3 linked regions of the Homo sapiens genome follow. The protein of the gene in region 1 interacts with the protein of each later gene in a pairwise test. Each region holds a gene or a part of one and is shown on either strand. Other genes may lie near its edges.

What was found. Proteins that work in one complex are often made in the same cells at the same time.
Region 2: the proteins of TMED7 (region 1) and PA2G4 interact in binary tests that used the Homo sapiens proteins (3 or more experiments, as listed by UniProt).
Region 3: the proteins of TMED7 (region 1) and TMPRSS3 interact in a two-hybrid assay, tested with the Homo sapiens proteins (one large-scale study listed by BioGRID and IntAct).

Annotation. Positions count from the first base shown.
Region 1 is NC_000005.10:115,622,664-115,628,455, reverse strand, and holds the start of TMED7 (transmembrane emp24 domain-containing protein 7 precursor), read left to right. Parts: upstream 1-2,419; 5' UTR 2,420-2,663; coding exon 2,664-2,855; intron 2,856-5,792. Other genes in the region: TMED7-TICAM2 (TRAM adaptor with GOLD domain isoform 1 precursor), read left to right, coding at 2,664-2,855. UniProt on the Homo sapiens protein: Potential role in vesicular protein trafficking, mainly in the early secretory pathway. Appears to play a role in the biosynthesis of secreted cargo including processing and post-translational modifications.
Region 2 is NC_000012.12:56,106,903-56,111,881, reverse strand, and holds part of PA2G4 (proliferation-associated protein 2G4), read right to left. Parts: intron 4,893-4,979; coding exon 4,787-4,892; intron 4,696-4,786; coding exon 4,626-4,695; intron 4,362-4,625; coding exon 4,269-4,361; intron 2,653-4,268; coding exon 2,589-2,652; intron 2,026-2,588; coding exon 1,947-2,025; intron 1,484-1,946; coding exon 1,405-1,483; intron 1,324-1,404; coding exon 1,190-1,323; intron 919-1,189; coding exon 824-918; intron 701-823; coding exon 573-700; intron 407-572; coding exon 353-406; intron 1-352. UniProt on the Homo sapiens protein: May play a role in a ERBB3-regulated signal transduction pathway. Seems be involved in growth regulation. Acts a corepressor of the androgen receptor (AR) and is regulated by the ERBB3 ligand neuregulin-1/heregulin (HRG).
Region 3 is NC_000021.9:42,392,356-42,397,943, reverse strand, and holds the start of TMPRSS3 (transmembrane protease serine 3), read left to right. Parts: upstream 1-1,891; 5' UTR 1,892-2,002; intron 2,003-2,475; 5' UTR 2,476-2,526; coding exon 2,527-2,620; intron 2,621-5,588. UniProt on the Homo sapiens protein: Probable serine protease that plays a role in hearing. Acts as a permissive factor for cochlear hair cell survival and activation at the onset of hearing and is required for saccular hair cell survival. Activates ENaC (in vitro).

The DNA.
Region 1 (5,792 bases):
ATTAGTTTCCTGAGGATCCCGTCACAAATTACTACAAATGTGATGGCTTGAAACAACAGAAATTTTTTCTCTCAGAGCTGGAGAGTCAAGAAGTCTGCAAGTAAGGTATTGCCAAGGTTGATACCTTCTGGAAGCTCTGAAGGAGAAGGTGTTCCAAGCCATTCTCCTAGTTTCCCATAGCGATGGGCAATCCTTGGTGTTCCTTGACTTGTGAACATATCATTCATTCCAATCTGTATCTTTGTCTTCAGTATGCCATTCCCCTCCCCCAACCCTGCCCCTGTATCTTTGTGTCTGTGCATCTCAAATCTTCCCTCCTCTTATAAGGTGTGTTAGTCCATGTTCATACTGCTATGAAGAAATACCCAAGACAGGGTAATTTACAAAGAATAAGTTAAATGAATTGATAGTTCCACATGGCTGGGGAGGCCTCACAATCATGGTGGAGGGTGAAGGCACAGCAAAAGCACGTCTTACATGGCAGCAGGCAAGAGAGCGTGTTCAGGGGAACTGCCCTTTATAAAACCATGAGATCTCATGTAGCTAACTACCTGTTATAAAACATGAACAATGTTTATAAACATGAATAATGCATTATACGTGCATTATATGTTTATAAACACAAATAATGCATTATAAACACAATACTGCTTTATGGGAAACATAAATGAATGGGAAGAACCCGCCCCCATGATTCAGTTACCTCCCACCAGGTCCCTCCCATGACACATGGGGATTATGGGAACTACAATAAAACCATCAGATCTCATGAGACTTATTCACTATCACCAGAACAGCATGGGAAAAATCTGCCTCCATGATTCAATTACCTCCCACCGGGTCCCTTCCGTGACATGTGGGGATTATGGGAACTACAATTCAAGATGATATTTGGGTGGAGACACAGCCAAACCATACCATAAGGATAACAGTCTTTAGATTTAGGGCCCACCCTAAGTCCCAGGATGACCTCATCTTGAGGGCCTTAACTTAATTACATCTGCAAAAGCCCTATTTCCAAATAAAATCATATTCACAGGGGTGGAGGGGTTGAAACTTGGACATGTATTTTTTAGGGGGACACAATTCAACTCACTGCACACATTTACATAAATAACACATCTTTTAATAAAAATATTTTCGAAATAAAAATTTAGCAAGAAGAGTGACCTTATTTTTGTAAATCTTTCATATCTAGATTTAAGGAAGAAGCTGGGTGCTCATTTCCTTTGATATTCAATCTGTTATGCTGTTTTGGTTGAAATATATAATGAAAATCCAGCTTCATACAGATCATTACATACCCTCTGAAAGGGTTTCAGGAGGCTTCTGGGGACTTCAGAGCAACACTTGAGAACCACTGCTCTAAAGCATATACTCCATAAATATATGTAAAATGGAATTTCCAGGCTGTGGCTACATATTCCAGGCTATATATATATATATATATATACATATATACACACACACACACACACACTGTATATAGGTGTGTGTGTTCTGTGTGTGTATACATATATTCTACTTTATTAGATAATGGCACATTGTTTTCCAACTTGATTAACCAATTTACTTTTTCACTAGCAGTGTATAAGAGGTTTTGTGGCTCTATAAGTCGACCAATATCTGTTATTGTTACACTTAAAATTTTTGCCTATCTTGTGGTATGTAATGTATTGATTGCACTGTGACGTTTAATTTAACAAAAGTTCATCTAGTGCTTGCTATGTACCAACCACTTCTAGGTACTTTTTCCAAATATTGGTACTTTGTAATAATTCTCTATGGTAGGTGCTATTATCTCCATTCTACAGATACACACTGAGGCAGAGAATTTAAGCAAGTGGCCGGACGTCACACAGCCAGTACGTGGCAAAGCAGGGATTAAGCACTCCTGCAGTCTGCTCTTAGAATTCGCGCTCCTTGCCCAGCTGCTTCCCCCAAATATTTATTATTACTTATGAGAAAACTCCGCAAATTGCAAAGCGCTCTACCACCAACGATTAGCACCCTAGGGCAAAATGAGCCCTTTACCACTCCCTAGATGCTCCCCAGCGCTAAGTTCCCAGCGGAGGTTGCAGTGAGCGCAGATCGCGCCACTGCACTCCAGCCTGGGTGACAGGGCGAGACTCTTGTCTCAAAAAAAAAAAAAAAAAAACAACAAAAAAAGCCAGTGATTGGAGCGTAATTACCCTCGCCAACCGCCTGTAACCACGGCGGCCGCCACGCCCCGTTTCCTGGTCTCGCCCCTCTCCGCCCACGACTCTGGCCCCGCCCCTCGTCCCAGGCTGCAACGGAGGCAGAGCCAACGCCTCGCGGGCTTCCACGTACGCACTCCAACGCGTGTTCCCGGAGAAGAACGCATCCGGGTCACGGGAGCCGGTGTCTCAGGCTCCGCCCCTTCACCCCCCGAAAGGCTAATCCCCACTTCCGACCCTCTCAGGCCTTTTCCGCTTCTCTTTTACCTCCCCAGGTCCGCCCGTCTGCGCCCCTCACAGGAAGCCGGAGGGTCGCTCTGATCCCGAATCTCCCACAGGCGTGAACCTGCTCTGCTGTGTATCTTTGCGGGGTGGCCTGCGCTGAGGCCTGCCGCGCGCGGTGAGTCCGCGCAGACCTGACCCTGCGTCTCGCAGCTCGGTTGAGGCCGCCGCCGCCTTCTCGGGATGCCGCGGCCGGGGTCCGCGCAGCGCTGGGCGGCCGTCGCGGGCCGTTGGGGGTGCAGGCTGCTCGCACTGCTGCTACTGGTGCCTGGACCCGGCGGCGCCTCTGAGATCACCTTCGAGCTTCCTGACAACGCCAAGCAGTGCTTCTACGAGGACATCGCTCAGGGCACCAAGTGCACCCTGGAGTTCCAGGTATCAGGGGCCTAGCAGTCCCTGGGCCCCAACTCGCGGCTCCAGGATTGGGGGTGTAACTTGAGGGATGGCACTTTCCTGTCCGTGTTTCCCCGTTCTTAGGCTAATTCAAAAATCGCTTCTAGGTAGCTGATGCCCAGCATTTGACTTTCCTCTAATAAACCTTGGGTGAGAGATGTTAAGACCGGGTGTTAAAATATATGAATTCCAGAAATGCTCCCTTTAGCATTTCTTTCCATCTCATTTTTAAGGCCTATTGAACTTTCTTCCTTAAAAGATTCCCTTAAAGAAAATCATTTATACTCTGTAGTACCCAGTGTCAACCCTCTACTCTCTAATCCACACCTCCAATTTAATTGGATTTGGAGTGCTGCCAATGTCTAACTTCATTGCTTTTCAGTTTTACCAATATTAGGACTGTTGGTTAATACGGTCCTTGTCATTGGAAGAGCTCCATTACAGGTTGAACGGCCATTTGCCAAGGGAGTTGTAGAAAGAATTGCTGTGATAAATGAGAGGCCCCTTCTGATATTTGGGATTATATAAAAAAGAAACTTTAACAGAATGTGGTTTATTCGGTTGGTTAGAACAGTCTTTACTGAGCTTCAATTTTGGTTGGTAGGCGCATTTAACATTTGAGTAGCTATTGAATACTAGGTGCCAGTGGTACAGAAGTGGTCGAAACAGATAGGGTCACTGCCATCATTCATGATTCCCCTCTCACCCTGCTTTTCTTAACTGGTATCTGCTCATTCATCAGAACTGTGCCTTAAGAGCAGTAAGTAGGATCCATGAAGGAAGACTTCCTTTGGAAAATTATTTTAAGCTGAACTTTAAAGGATGAGCTATAAACACCTTGGTAAGGGAGGAGGGGGAATAGCCTGTGGTAGTAGTGAACACTGAGAATTTCAGGGCCATAGAGAGAGGTCCAATATGGTTGGGAATAAGGAGCCAGAGCAAGGGGGTCAGCAGGGGCAGGCCAGATAGTGTCTTGCTGACCATGTTAAGGATTTGTTTTTCCTGAAAGTGTAGGAAGCCATCAGAGGGTTATAAGCAGTTCAGTGATATGACGAGAATATTCTTGGTAGCTGCATTAATAATAACTTGTGCAGGTAGAGAAGTGATGGTAAGATGTTGCAGAGCGGATGTGGAAGGCTGATTAGGAGGTTATTATGGTGGTCTAGACAAGAAATGATAGTGGCTTAGAGTAGAGTGATAGCAGTGGGGTAAATGAAAAGTGAAAGGATTGGAGAGAAGGTAGTAGGTAGAATCAACAGGACTTGGTAATGATTTGGCTATAGTGGGTCAGGGAGGGGAGGCCAAGGATGACCCTTAGGCTTACTTACCTTCATGGATTAGCACCAGGGGACAGAAAAGAAGATAGCAGGAATTGTGATAAAAAGTATAAGCCGACATTTTCTTTGTTTGAATTTAATAAACATTTCCTGGATTTTTGTGTATGCAGACTCAGTGATTAGTGCTAAGGATACTACTACAATGGCTAACAAATTAGCATCTGTTATGTGTAGACAGTATGTTAAGCATTTCAGGTATGTTCTCAGGAAAGCCCGATATGAAATTGTTATAGCTCTTACTCCTTTTTTACTGATGAAACTGAGGTTTAGATAGGCTAAGAACCAAGGGCATAAAACGTAGAAGTAGCTAAATCAGTAACGCAGTCCCAAGTTAAATTCTTAACCACTTTATTATACTACCTCCCAGAGACTGACTTTGATCTCAGAGAGCTTACACAGACATATATAGTCATAAAATGTTAAATGTGACAATAAAGGTACACACTAGGTATAGTGCTGGCAGGAGACAGAAGGATCATCAGGGGACATTTAGCTGAGGAGCTGATGTTAGAGGTGAGTCTGCAAGATAAGTAGCCGTTGCTCTACAAGGCGGCAGAGGAGAGAAGAAGGGGCCCCAGGCAGATATGTTCATGACAGTTCCAGCAGGCCTGAAATTAGCCTGAGCTATATTGCTAACATTTGTGCATGGCATTGAAAATACACTGAATAATAATAGTTTTGTGACTATAGTTATATTTATTAATAGTCACAAAACTATTATTATTAGCTTTAATATGAAGCTATTATAATAGCTTTGTGACTGTGAGTCCAAGGGCTTTGGGGGCAGTTTGTACCAGTTTGTCAACATTATTTATTGGTAACAATGAGATTGATGATTTGCTCCTGGTCTTCATGAGACCACACCCCCAACCCAGAGCTCTGTTGTTGAGACTAGCTGCGTAGCAGGAATATGCCTATGTGACCAGCAAAATATTTAAAAATGCAATCAGGACTCTATTTTGGGTTGCTTGGTTCCAGGGTGTTTTCTTTGCACACTTGGGTGGTTCCAGATCTGAGAGAGTATATGTCTGGCCACACACCTAACAAAGGGAAGCCGAAGGAGCCCACACCTGACCTTTTCAGATCTCTTGCTGTGAGGCAGCCTTTGGCTGTAATGTTTTATATTCTTTTCCTTTTGGGGCTCTTTTCAGTCCCAAGTTAAATTCTTAGCCACTTTATTATACTACCTCCCAGAGACTGACTCTGACCTCAGAGAGCTTACATAGACATATATAGTCGTATAATGTTATAAACTGTAGATTTATAACATAACCTACAGTAATAAACTGTAGATTTGCAAACACTGTCATTTTGATCCGTGTGATTCTTTAGCAAACCCTGTTGAACTGCACTGTCAGTGCAGATGTAAAGCAAAGACTTGTTCAGAGAATTTCTGGTAGTCTGGTATTTTAGGAACATAGAACGAGTAAGGGTGTGAATAAAAGAGGTTCTGAAGCTACCTGGGAGGAAGAACATGTGAATAGTATACCATTGTTAAGAGGTTTAGATTTGTCTGCAGGCCACAGGTAATTATCAAAAAGTTTTTAAGTGATTGCTCAATGGGGAATGAGGAAAGATGGGG
Region 2 (4,979 bases), on another chromosome or scaffold:
CTTAGCCTCCCAAAGTGCTGGGATTACAGGCATGAGCCACTGTGCCCGGCCAAAGCAAGGCTGGGCATGGCAGCTCATGCCTGTAATCCCAACAGTTTGGGAGGCTGAGGTGGAAGGACTGTTCAAGGCCAGGAGTTTGAGACTCTGTCTCTTAAAATATATATATATATATTTTAAAATCCATTTTGACTTACAGTATTTTCAATTTATGATGGGTTTACTGGGACAAAGTTCTATCATATAAGTTGAGGAGCATCTGTATAAAAATCCGTATTTCACTACAACTTAACACAGTGGGAGAAAGAGGGATCAGGTTCACCCTGCCAGAGAGGAATGATCGTTAATAACACACCTTCTTTTTTTTCTTTTTCTGGGTTTTTCGACTTGCAGAACTCTGGAGGAGGGCCTGGAAAACAGGAAGAAGGGAAAAAAATTTTGAGAAATGTGGAGGAAATTAAAAATAAAGGGTTACTTTCAGTACTGCAGCTCTTTTCAGGACTTTGCTGGCATTTAGCCCTCACTCCCAAGCAGGATACCATGTACATACTCACCACCTTCTATTCCATACTAACCTTTAGCTCTGCATCCTGGACCTCCATCTCAGACTTGTAGAGGTCAGGCTCGAAGGGACCACTGGTTATCCGCATGGGGCCATTGGGCATGAGCAGAACTGTAAATTTAAACTGGGCAACAAATTCACCTATGGCAAAAATGAAGATGTGTTTTGATAAAAAGTTCCTTTGTCATACTTAGCTCTTCTGAACTTACAGGAAGGATATCTTATAATCAGGGAATCCAAAGTGAAGCTCTTTTTGGAACTCACCCTCCTTCTCATAGAGAACATTAAATGGTTGCAGCAGTTCATGTTTGGCGCACTCCACCACACCCATCCGAGCCTTCTTCTCATCTTCAAATGCTCTGGCAGGGAAGATGATATTCAGAGGTATCTTTAACTCCCCATCAAGTCTTACCATTTTGCTCATATTTTAAAATAGCTCCTACCCTCAGGCAGAAATCATGCTTAGGATTGCTCTTTTACATTACCTTCAATGAGAAGGAGATGGGGAGAGAGAGGGAGGGAGTGAGCACATGCACGCTACAAGTCTAGGCAGGAAGGGAGAGGAAAAAGTGTTCCTGGGTGTATGGTCTGTGAGTCAGACTGGTTCCAAGTACTATCATTGCTTAGTACCTTAAAGTAAACGGCATGGCATCAAAACGCCTTTCCACCTCACTGAAGAAGGCACGTGAAGTTTTCATTTTCAGTCCATACTGTTTAGAGGGGTCTCGTTTGTAAATAGTGGTTCTCTGTCCTGCATCCTTGGCCTGAAAGAGTAATTTAAGTAACATTTGGTCTGGTGAACACTCTCAGTCACCCCTCTTTGCCAACTCTGGTACTCTCCTCACCTTGCCCTCTCCTGAGCTGACGAGAACATCCACAGCATATACTTCATGTACCTCAAATTCAGCTTTTTCATGGTCCTTCCTAAAAGGAATAGAGAGAAAGGAATTTTTTTTTTTTTTTGACACAGAGTCTCATTCTGTCACCCAGGCTGGAGTGCAGTGGCACAATCTCAGCTCACTGCAACCTCCACCTCCCGGGTCCAAGCAACTCTCCTGCCTCAGCCTCCCAAGTAGCTGGGACTATAGGCACAAACCACCAGGCCTGGCTCATTTTTGTAGTTTTTAGTAGAGACAGGGTTTCGCCATGTTGGTTAGGCTGGTTCTGAACTCGTGACCTCAGGTGATCCACCCGCCTCAGCCTCCCAAAGTGCTGGGATTACAGGCGTGAGCCACCGCGCCCGGCCTAGAGAAAGGGAATATTAAGAGCAACAGGTCACTCCTGAAAACATGGAGTAGAGGGCGGACAAGATTCAGTTGGGAGTATAGAAAAAAACCTGATGACTAGTCTTGTGTGGTAGAAGGTAATAAGTAGGGTTGGCACCTACTTCTGCTGGTCTGTGGGATTCTGGATAATGGTTTTTTCTCCATCGATGACATGCTGCTTCAACTGGTGTGACAGCATACCTGTAGATAGTACACAACCTATGGAACAAGCTATCCAGTATCCCAAAAGGTTTCCAAATCCACCCACTTCAGTAGTTTGAAGTGGTAGGCAGTGAGACAACTACCTGGTTATGGAAACACAGGGCTCTGAGATTTCTGGCTTAGACTGGGTTATAGCCAGGATAGATCTTCAAGGGAGCAAAAGCCTCAATTCTGCAAAGCCACTCATTCTTTTTTTTTTTTTTTTTGAGATGGAGGAGATGGAGTTTCGCTCTTATTGCCCAGACTGGAGTGCAGTGGCGCAATCTTGGCTCACTGCAACCTCCTCCTCCCGGGTTCAAGCGATTATCTCGCCTTAGCCTCCCAAGTAGCTGGGATTACAGGCACCCACCACCACGCCCAGCTAATTTTTATATTTTTAGTAGAGACGGGGTTTCACCATGTTGGCCAGGCTAGTCTCAAACTCCTGACCTCAGGTGATCCGCCCACCTCAGCCTCCCAAAGTTCTGGGATTACAGGCGTGAGCCACCGCACCTGGCAAAGCCACTCATTCTTAGACCCTCAACCCTGTTATCTGTTCTCACCTTCTATTGGCGTGCAGTTAAATGAGTGGGCAACTTTGTTCCAGGCTTCTGTCACTTGTGTGTTCTAGAAGTACAACATCAAATGAAAGGTGAGATATCAGGAGCTAATAAGTTCTCTACAATGAGAATAAGAAGCATAAAAGAACTGAGCGTTTTTTTTTTTTTTTTTGAGATGGAGTCTGGCTTTGTCACCAGGCTGGAGTGCAGTGGCGTGATCTTGGCTCACTGCAATCTCTGCCTCCCGGGTTCAAGCTATTCTCCTGCCTCAGCCTCCTGAGTAGCTGGGATTACAGGCACGCAACACCACGCCCAGCTAATTTTTGTATTTTTAGAAGAGACGGGGTTTCACCATGTTGGCCAGGATGGTCTCGATCTCCTGACCTCGTGATCTGCCCACCTCAGCCTCCCAAAGTGCTGGGATTACAGGCATGAGCCATTGCACCTGGCAGAACTGAGCGTTCTAATATCCTCCATCAAGCCCCAATGATTGTCATTCACTGGTTTTTCATTTCATAGCTTGATTATCCCTACAATCTAAAAATACTTTATACAGATGCTCCCCAACTTGCAATGGGGTTACATCTCCAAAAAACTCATAAGTTGAAAATATCACTAAGTCAAAAATGCATTTAATACCCCTAACCTACCTAACATCACAGCCTAGCCTATGTTAAATGTGCTCAGAGCACTTAAAAAACATTATCCTACAGTTGGGCAGAATTATCTAACACATGCCTATTTTATATTAGTGTTGAATATCTCATGTAATTTACTAAATACTATATGGAAAATGAAAAACAGAATGGTTGTATGGGTACTCAAAGTATAGCTTCTACTGAATGTAGCATCAAGCTGAGGACCAGCTGTAACTGCATATCATTTTACCCAGTGCTTTCACAAAGATGGTCTAACTCAATAAATTTTGCATGTGAACAGGGCAGATGTATATCCCAATCTAGAAGACAAGGAAACTGAGTCTCAGGTTAAATGATTTGCCCCAGGTTAAATGAGTGTTAAGTGAAAGAACTTGGTCATAAACCTGGGTTTTCTTTTTTCTTTTTGTAGACGGGTCTCGCTATGTTTCCCAAGCTGGTCTCAAATGCCTGGGTTCAAGCAATCCTCCCACCTTGGCCTCCCAAAGTGCTGGGATTACAGGCATGTGCCACCACATGCCTATAATATTAAGTCCAGTGTTTATCCTTTTTTACCTGGCATTCTAATCTGTTTTGTGGGGACAGCAAATGCTTATTTTTCCTTTTTCTTTTGTGAGACAGGGTTTCATTGTTGCCCAGGCTGGAGTGCAGTGGCATGATCATAGCTCAGCACAGCCTCAATCTCCCAGGCTCAGGTGATTCTCCCACCTCAGCCTCCCTGGAAGCTGGGAATACAGGCACATGTTACCACGCCCAGCTAATTTTTGTATTTTTTGTAGAAATGGGGTTTCACCATGTTTCCCAGGCTGGTCTTGAACTCCCAGCCTCAAGCTATCCTCCTACCTTGGCCCCCCAAAGTGATGGGATTACAGATGTGAGTCACTGTGCCCAGCTAAATATAGCTAATTTTAAAAAGCTGTTTTATAAGGGGTCTGTAGGGGAGGTTGGTAGTTTCATATAGAGTAGCTATAGGTGCCTAATGCATCTTTGGTTCAAACGAGCTTTGGAATTGGATAAAATAGCTTACCTGATTTCCAGGTTTGACCAGGCGTAGGGCAGCTTCAGCACAAAGGTGAGCTGCCTTAATAACATCTGCTTTCCTCCCTGTTACTTGGGTCCCCTGTAGATAAGGACATGCAATCAGTATCTTCCTGGAAAGTCTGTTAACTCAGCTGGCTATCTGGTTAATATCTGTGAGCCCATATGCGAAGACCAGCCAATGAACAGGAGGGTAAAAACAACAACAACAACAAAAACCTTTCTCCTTTTGCTTCTCTAGAGACTCTCTCAACTTACGTGGTGATTGGGGGTGGGGATAAGAAGCAAATGGCAGTGCATTCCCTCTACCCCAAGGCTAAACAGAGATCAAAAGCAGGCCACCTACCTGAGCTACATCAACCACAAAAGTGTGAGCTACATTAGCGATGAAGCCATCCACATGGACCCCAAGGTCACTGAAAGGCAAGATCAGAGTACTGCATTAGGAACTGGCATTTTGTAAATGCTTTAAAAAAAGAAAAATGCTTTAAAACGGTTTAACCTTACATTTTTACCAAGTCACCTTCCTTGAGAATATAATCCTGGTCGCTCTTCAAAGGGGAGAAGTGACATACACAGTTATTTACCGAAATGCTGGTGGGAAAAGCAATACCTGTAAAGAAAGAATCATCAGCCTACTGCCTTGCTGTCTCCCGGGAGCCCTAGTGCCCTTCAGAAATGTAGAAGGATTTTTTCAGGG
Region 3 (5,588 bases), on another chromosome or scaffold:
CATTGAGATCGCCCAAGGCTTTCCACACATCAAAGGCAAACCAGAGCCCTTCCCATGCCCCTGGGCCTTGGGATCTGCCATCGGCTATTCCCTGTTCCCTGCTTTCTAGGCTCACGGCCCCTCTTGGGGTTCCTCAAACACTCCAGCGTGGCCCCTATTCCAGGCTTTGGAGCTGGTGGTCGCCCTCCTTGGAGGAATTTCACAAGACTCACTTCACTGGTCACCAAGGTCTCTACTAAAACATCATCAAGGTCCCTGCTGAAACAACACTCTCCCTAGAGGCCGTCCTGTACCACTCTGCCCTCATCTCTCTCAGACCCTCCCCGGCCTAATCTCTTCCTAGCGCTTAACATCTGGGGCCCCATGGGAGCACTTTGTTTTTCTTGCTGGCTGCACTGTGTCTAGAGTCTGGCCCATGGCAGATGCTTGCTAAATATTTGCTGAATAAATGCATGGATTTGCGAGTTGCCATCCACAATGGTAAATTCAGCCCTTCAAAGATGCTCAGCGCTCTGGTCCCCACAGCAGCGGTTAAACCCCTTTAAGCAGTGCTGTGTGCAGAAGCCTCTTGGGATGCAGAGGCCTCCGAGGAAGGAAACATGACGTGTCTTTTGTGGAGCGCAGGCTGTGATGAGCATCTTCAGGCTCCCCATCTTTTGTCTGCAGGAGTAGCTGCAGAATTGAACTTGGGGGCTCAGTTACAGGGAGGGACAGAAACCCCCACCAGAGAGTATGTCTGCCCTCTTGACGGTCACATGCTCAGCACTGGGCAGAGCCTACCCCTTCTTTCAAGTAAAAGGAGCGGCTGTGTTCCGATCACTCCCTGATGCAAAGCTTCTGAAAAGGTTTGCTCACCTTACTGACTAATTAAAGGGAAGCCACATTTTTCCCTCCCTGGTCTCTGCAGCCATACCACCAAGGGCTATTTGATAGGCCCACGGCAGCTTGGGTTACACAGATGCCCGCGATAATGCCATTTGCTGCGATGATTGAGTCGACAAGGCTGAGTGACTTGGGGAAAATATTCCCCGATTGGACTAACCTGTTGGCGGCCTGCTTACCATCACACTTGTTTTTATAATGAAAAAGGAAATTATTTCTGCTTTTAATGATGGCAGCTCCAGAAATGGTGAGTAAAATGGGTGTGAGGAGAGAAGATGCTTCTCAACACTTCTCAGTGTTGTACAGCTTGCCAACCACAGCCTGTTTGGGAGGGGATGTTCTCACCCAGGTTCCATCTTTCAGAAGCCATTTGCCCACTTATTCTTTTTATATGGATAAACGATGTAATTTGCTACATGCTGATAATAAACAGAGGTATCAGCAAGAATGAAAGCCAGAAAATGGCCCAACATGAACTTCTTGCTTTTCTAAGTTACTCTTTCAAGCTCTTCTTGCGATAGAAATGAAATGAACATTTTTGGCACAGAACTCTTGTTTAGATTTTACTATGATCTTGGGAAACACGGGTTGCTTCAAATGGCTTACTAGATCCCTTTGGAATTTCAAACGTTACAACAGGTAGTCACAAAGGGAATGAAAGCGGATGATCTGAGTGTCTGTGCTGATGTGCCTGCTGGAGCCCCTGTGGATTTTAGCCCTTGGAGGAAGCAGGTTCCCAGAGCAGCCATGCCTGATATCTGGGAGAGGGAACTAGAATTTAATTGGGAATCTTCTGCTATTTCCCTGCTTCCTCCGCCCTCTCAGAGTTACAGGGAATGACTTAGAAAGGTCTCTGGTCTCCTTGGCATTGTGATAGGTGGAATTCTTTCGTAGGAAACACAGCCCCGGGGTTATTTTGATGCAAGCCGTTGGTCCAAAGCCACTCCCCACTTTGCTATGTGGGGGAAGGACCGGGCACCGGACGGCTCGGGTACTTTCGTTCTTAATTAGGTCATGCCCGTGTGAGCCAGGAAAGGGCTGTGTTTATGGGAAGCCAGTAACACTGTGGCCTACTATCTCTTCCGTGGTGCCATCTACATTTTTGGGACTCGGGAATTATGTGAGTACCGAAACTACTTATGCTTATGGTAGGTGTACCACACGCACAGGGAAAGAATTGCGTTTATGTGGGACAGGTGAAAACAATCGCAAAAAAGCAATGGAAAGGGCTTTGAGAGTAATTTATCTTCTGAACAATAGCAATATGGCAACTTCTAAATGGTGAGAGGGAGTCCCTCTAAAGCAATCGATTTGAAGATTGGTTGGACAAACAATGGGAAAGTCATTGTCTTAGCAGAATTAAGTTCATACTTTTTTTTTTTTTTTTTTTTTGCTAATTCTAGAAGCTTTTCTGTTATCTGCTGTAGCTCAGACGAAAATGCATTCTCACCAGATGACTGTTTTTGGTTAATCGATACTGAATGCGCTTTGTGTGGACTGTCGAATTTCAAAGATTTACCGTATGACCAAGATGCACCTGATGCTACAAGTATAAATAGGGGAACAAATGCTTTCTGTTCTTCCTCGGCTAAGGAGGTAGAGGTGGAGGCGGAGCCGGATGTCAGAGGTCCTGAAATAGTCACCATGGGGGAAAATGATCCGCCTGCTGTTGAAGCCCCCTTCTCATTCCGATCGCTTTTTGGCCTTGATGATTTGAAAATAAGTCCTGTTGCACCAGGTAAGTGGACCCAGGTGAGGACTCTGTGATTTCTGCCCATACCCTCATGTAGGTGACCAATGTGACTGACTGTCCCTGTGGGGGAAATATCTCCCCAGCCATTCTGACACCCACAGGCTGGACACCTGCACTTCCCTAGATCTGCAGAATCTCAGGGAGAAGGGGCATTGGAGAGGGGATCGTTTCGTTAAGCCCTTTGCTCTCTCCCTGGAGACCGGTGTTTTCTTCTCTTGTTGGAGGTTTTCAGAGACTGGGGCTCCACAATTGTCCTGTCAATCCTGAAGGAGGTCAGATCCTGGCCAGGAAATCTCTGAGTCCTCCAGGAAGTCCTGAGAAGCAGTGGCCACCAGTCCCTCCGAAAACTCAGGATAAACTGGATGTCGCCAAAGATATTAGAGGCCTAGATTAAAATCCAGCAGCAGATGACGGAGTGGCTCCTAACAACTGAAGGAAAAAAGTTGGTTTCGTAAATAAGTCACAAATGCCTGATAAAACAGTGGACTCTCTAGCAACCTATACGGCTAGGATCTTTTTGACCAGAGATAGTCAGGACTGGTCAAAGGGAGCTGTGGGGTTGCCGGTTCTGGAAGTCAGGGCTTGGACGCAGGCAGATTCCTGACACATTGGTGCTAGGGAGGAACCACAGGAGCTCTGCCTGAGGTTCCAGAAAGTGGGAGTGGGGGTCACCCTAATGATTTCTTTTAAACCAACTGGAAAATTGGCTTGGAGGAGGTTTGGAAAGGATGGGAGGTGGGAGAAGAGGTTTCAAGTAACTGAAAAGACACACATTTAAAAATATGGCTCAAAATTAGCTAAGTGTCAATGAAAGAAAAAAAAATCTTGCAATCACCTGACTCCCAAAACTTACCTGGTTTTTATGTCTGCAAAGTCTCTTCCTGCTTTTGCCCGTATGTGTGGTTTCATGCACAGTACAGATATAGGCAGGTGGGTTTTTTCCATAAAAGGTTTTTATAAATTTTTTCTTATGGAATCACAGTATTCCATCAAGTAGATATGCAATTTACACAGCCATTTGATCATAGTTTGACCTATAGTTGTTCCTAATATTTTATAATATAAATAATATGAATATTAATAGCACTATAATATTCCTTTCTCTTATTTTTTGATTATTTTGCTATGACTAAGTAGTGGGGAGGAACAAAAACTTTTCCTTGTAAATAGAGTAATGTATTGTTCATTAGAAGAACAATTTAGAAAATACAGTTCATTGAAAAGATTTTTAAAAATTACCCACGACGGCATCATTACTCAGAGATAATCCTATTAGCAATTTATTATTGAATTTCTTGCCTTTTTCTATCTATATATCTATATTTCCTTTGGAAGTAACATGTACTATTTGTATTATTTTGAAGCTTTTAAAAAATTTTAACAATATCACCTTCACCTTTCTATGGCATTAAATAATTAAATATTTTCTAGATGTTGACAAACTATGGCTGATGGGTCAAATCTGGCCCACCCCCTTCTTTTGTAAATAAAGTTTTATTGGAACACAGACATGCTCATTTGTTCACATACTGTCTGTGGCTGCTTTCACGCCATAACAGCAGAGTGGGGTCGTTAGGACAGACCGCATGGCCCATAAAGTTTAAGTGCTGTATTTACTGTCTGGTCCTTTACAGAAAATCTCTCCAACCGTTTTCTATATCATCTTGTCCTCCTATAGGTATTCCATTATATGTGTACCTCATTTGTTATTTCACCCGTTCTTTTTTGTGGGTAATTTGGTCCGTTTCCTGTGCATCAATATTATAAGTGCCATTCTTCTAAGTGTCCTTGGGGGTCGATATTTGCGTATATCTATGGTGACATTTTAGGATAAATTCCTAGAAGTGGAACTGCTAGGTCAAAACTTTCATCTGTTTTTGAGCTTTCCGGTGTCTAAGTTTACACAGCTGGGAAGTTTACACAGTTTCTACCCCTGTGACTGTAGGTGGGGGACCATTTCCTTTCACTTCATGTGAATCATTGTGAAGTTGGCATGTAGTTATGTCTCATTTGCATTGTTTTCATTTCTCAAGAAGTTGAAAGCTTTTTTTTTTTCTTTTTCTTGAGACGAGGTCTCGCTCTGTCGCCCAGGCTGGAGTGCAATGGCGTGATCTCGGCTCACTGCAACCTCCAACCGCCCGGGTTCAAGCGATTCTCTTGCCTCGGCCTCCTGAGTTGCTGGAATTACAGGCACATGCCCCCACACCCAGCTAATTTTTGTATTTTTAGTAGAGGCGGGTTTCACCGTGTTGGGCAGGCTGGTCAAGAAGTTGAAAGCTTTTTCATACTTGTGCGCCATTTGCATTCCTTCTTTGGAGAAATGCTGTACATTTCATTGTTTATTCCAGGCAATGTCCTCAAGGACCAAGCACAGAGGAGGCGTGGGGCCCCTGCAGTGCCCTCAGGGCAGCCTGACAGAGAAGCAGGGCAAACGGGAACTGACACAGCCTTTCGATTAAATGTCAATCTTTGATTTGACAATTTGGGGTCATTTTCTAAATCCAACTTAAATACAGAGCAGCTGGAATGTGAAGATGTCATTCCTGGGGTTCCTGCAGATTTCTAAGTATAAGACGAAGGGTGGGCATCCTTATAGAGGAGAATTGTTAGTGTGCGGGGGATCGAGGTGTGAGGGTGGAGAGAGGATCCTTTCTGCCAGCTCACCACCGCAGATGGGCTGTCCTGGAAGGACTTGGTCTCAGACCCTGAGTTAAAACGGCCTTCATTATCATGATGTCATTCATTCATCTAGCACATTTTTATCAAGGACTACTGTGTGTCCCCTGCTGTTCTAGGTATGGATAATGCAGCTTCAACAAACCACTGAGCTTGTCCAGGCCTAAAACACAGAACTTGCCACGGTCTCTCATCCTCCCTCACTCTGCGTTCCTCACAGCCTCCACATCTGCGAAGTGCAGCTTCTATTTCCCTGCTCTTCCTCCATCTCCTGCTC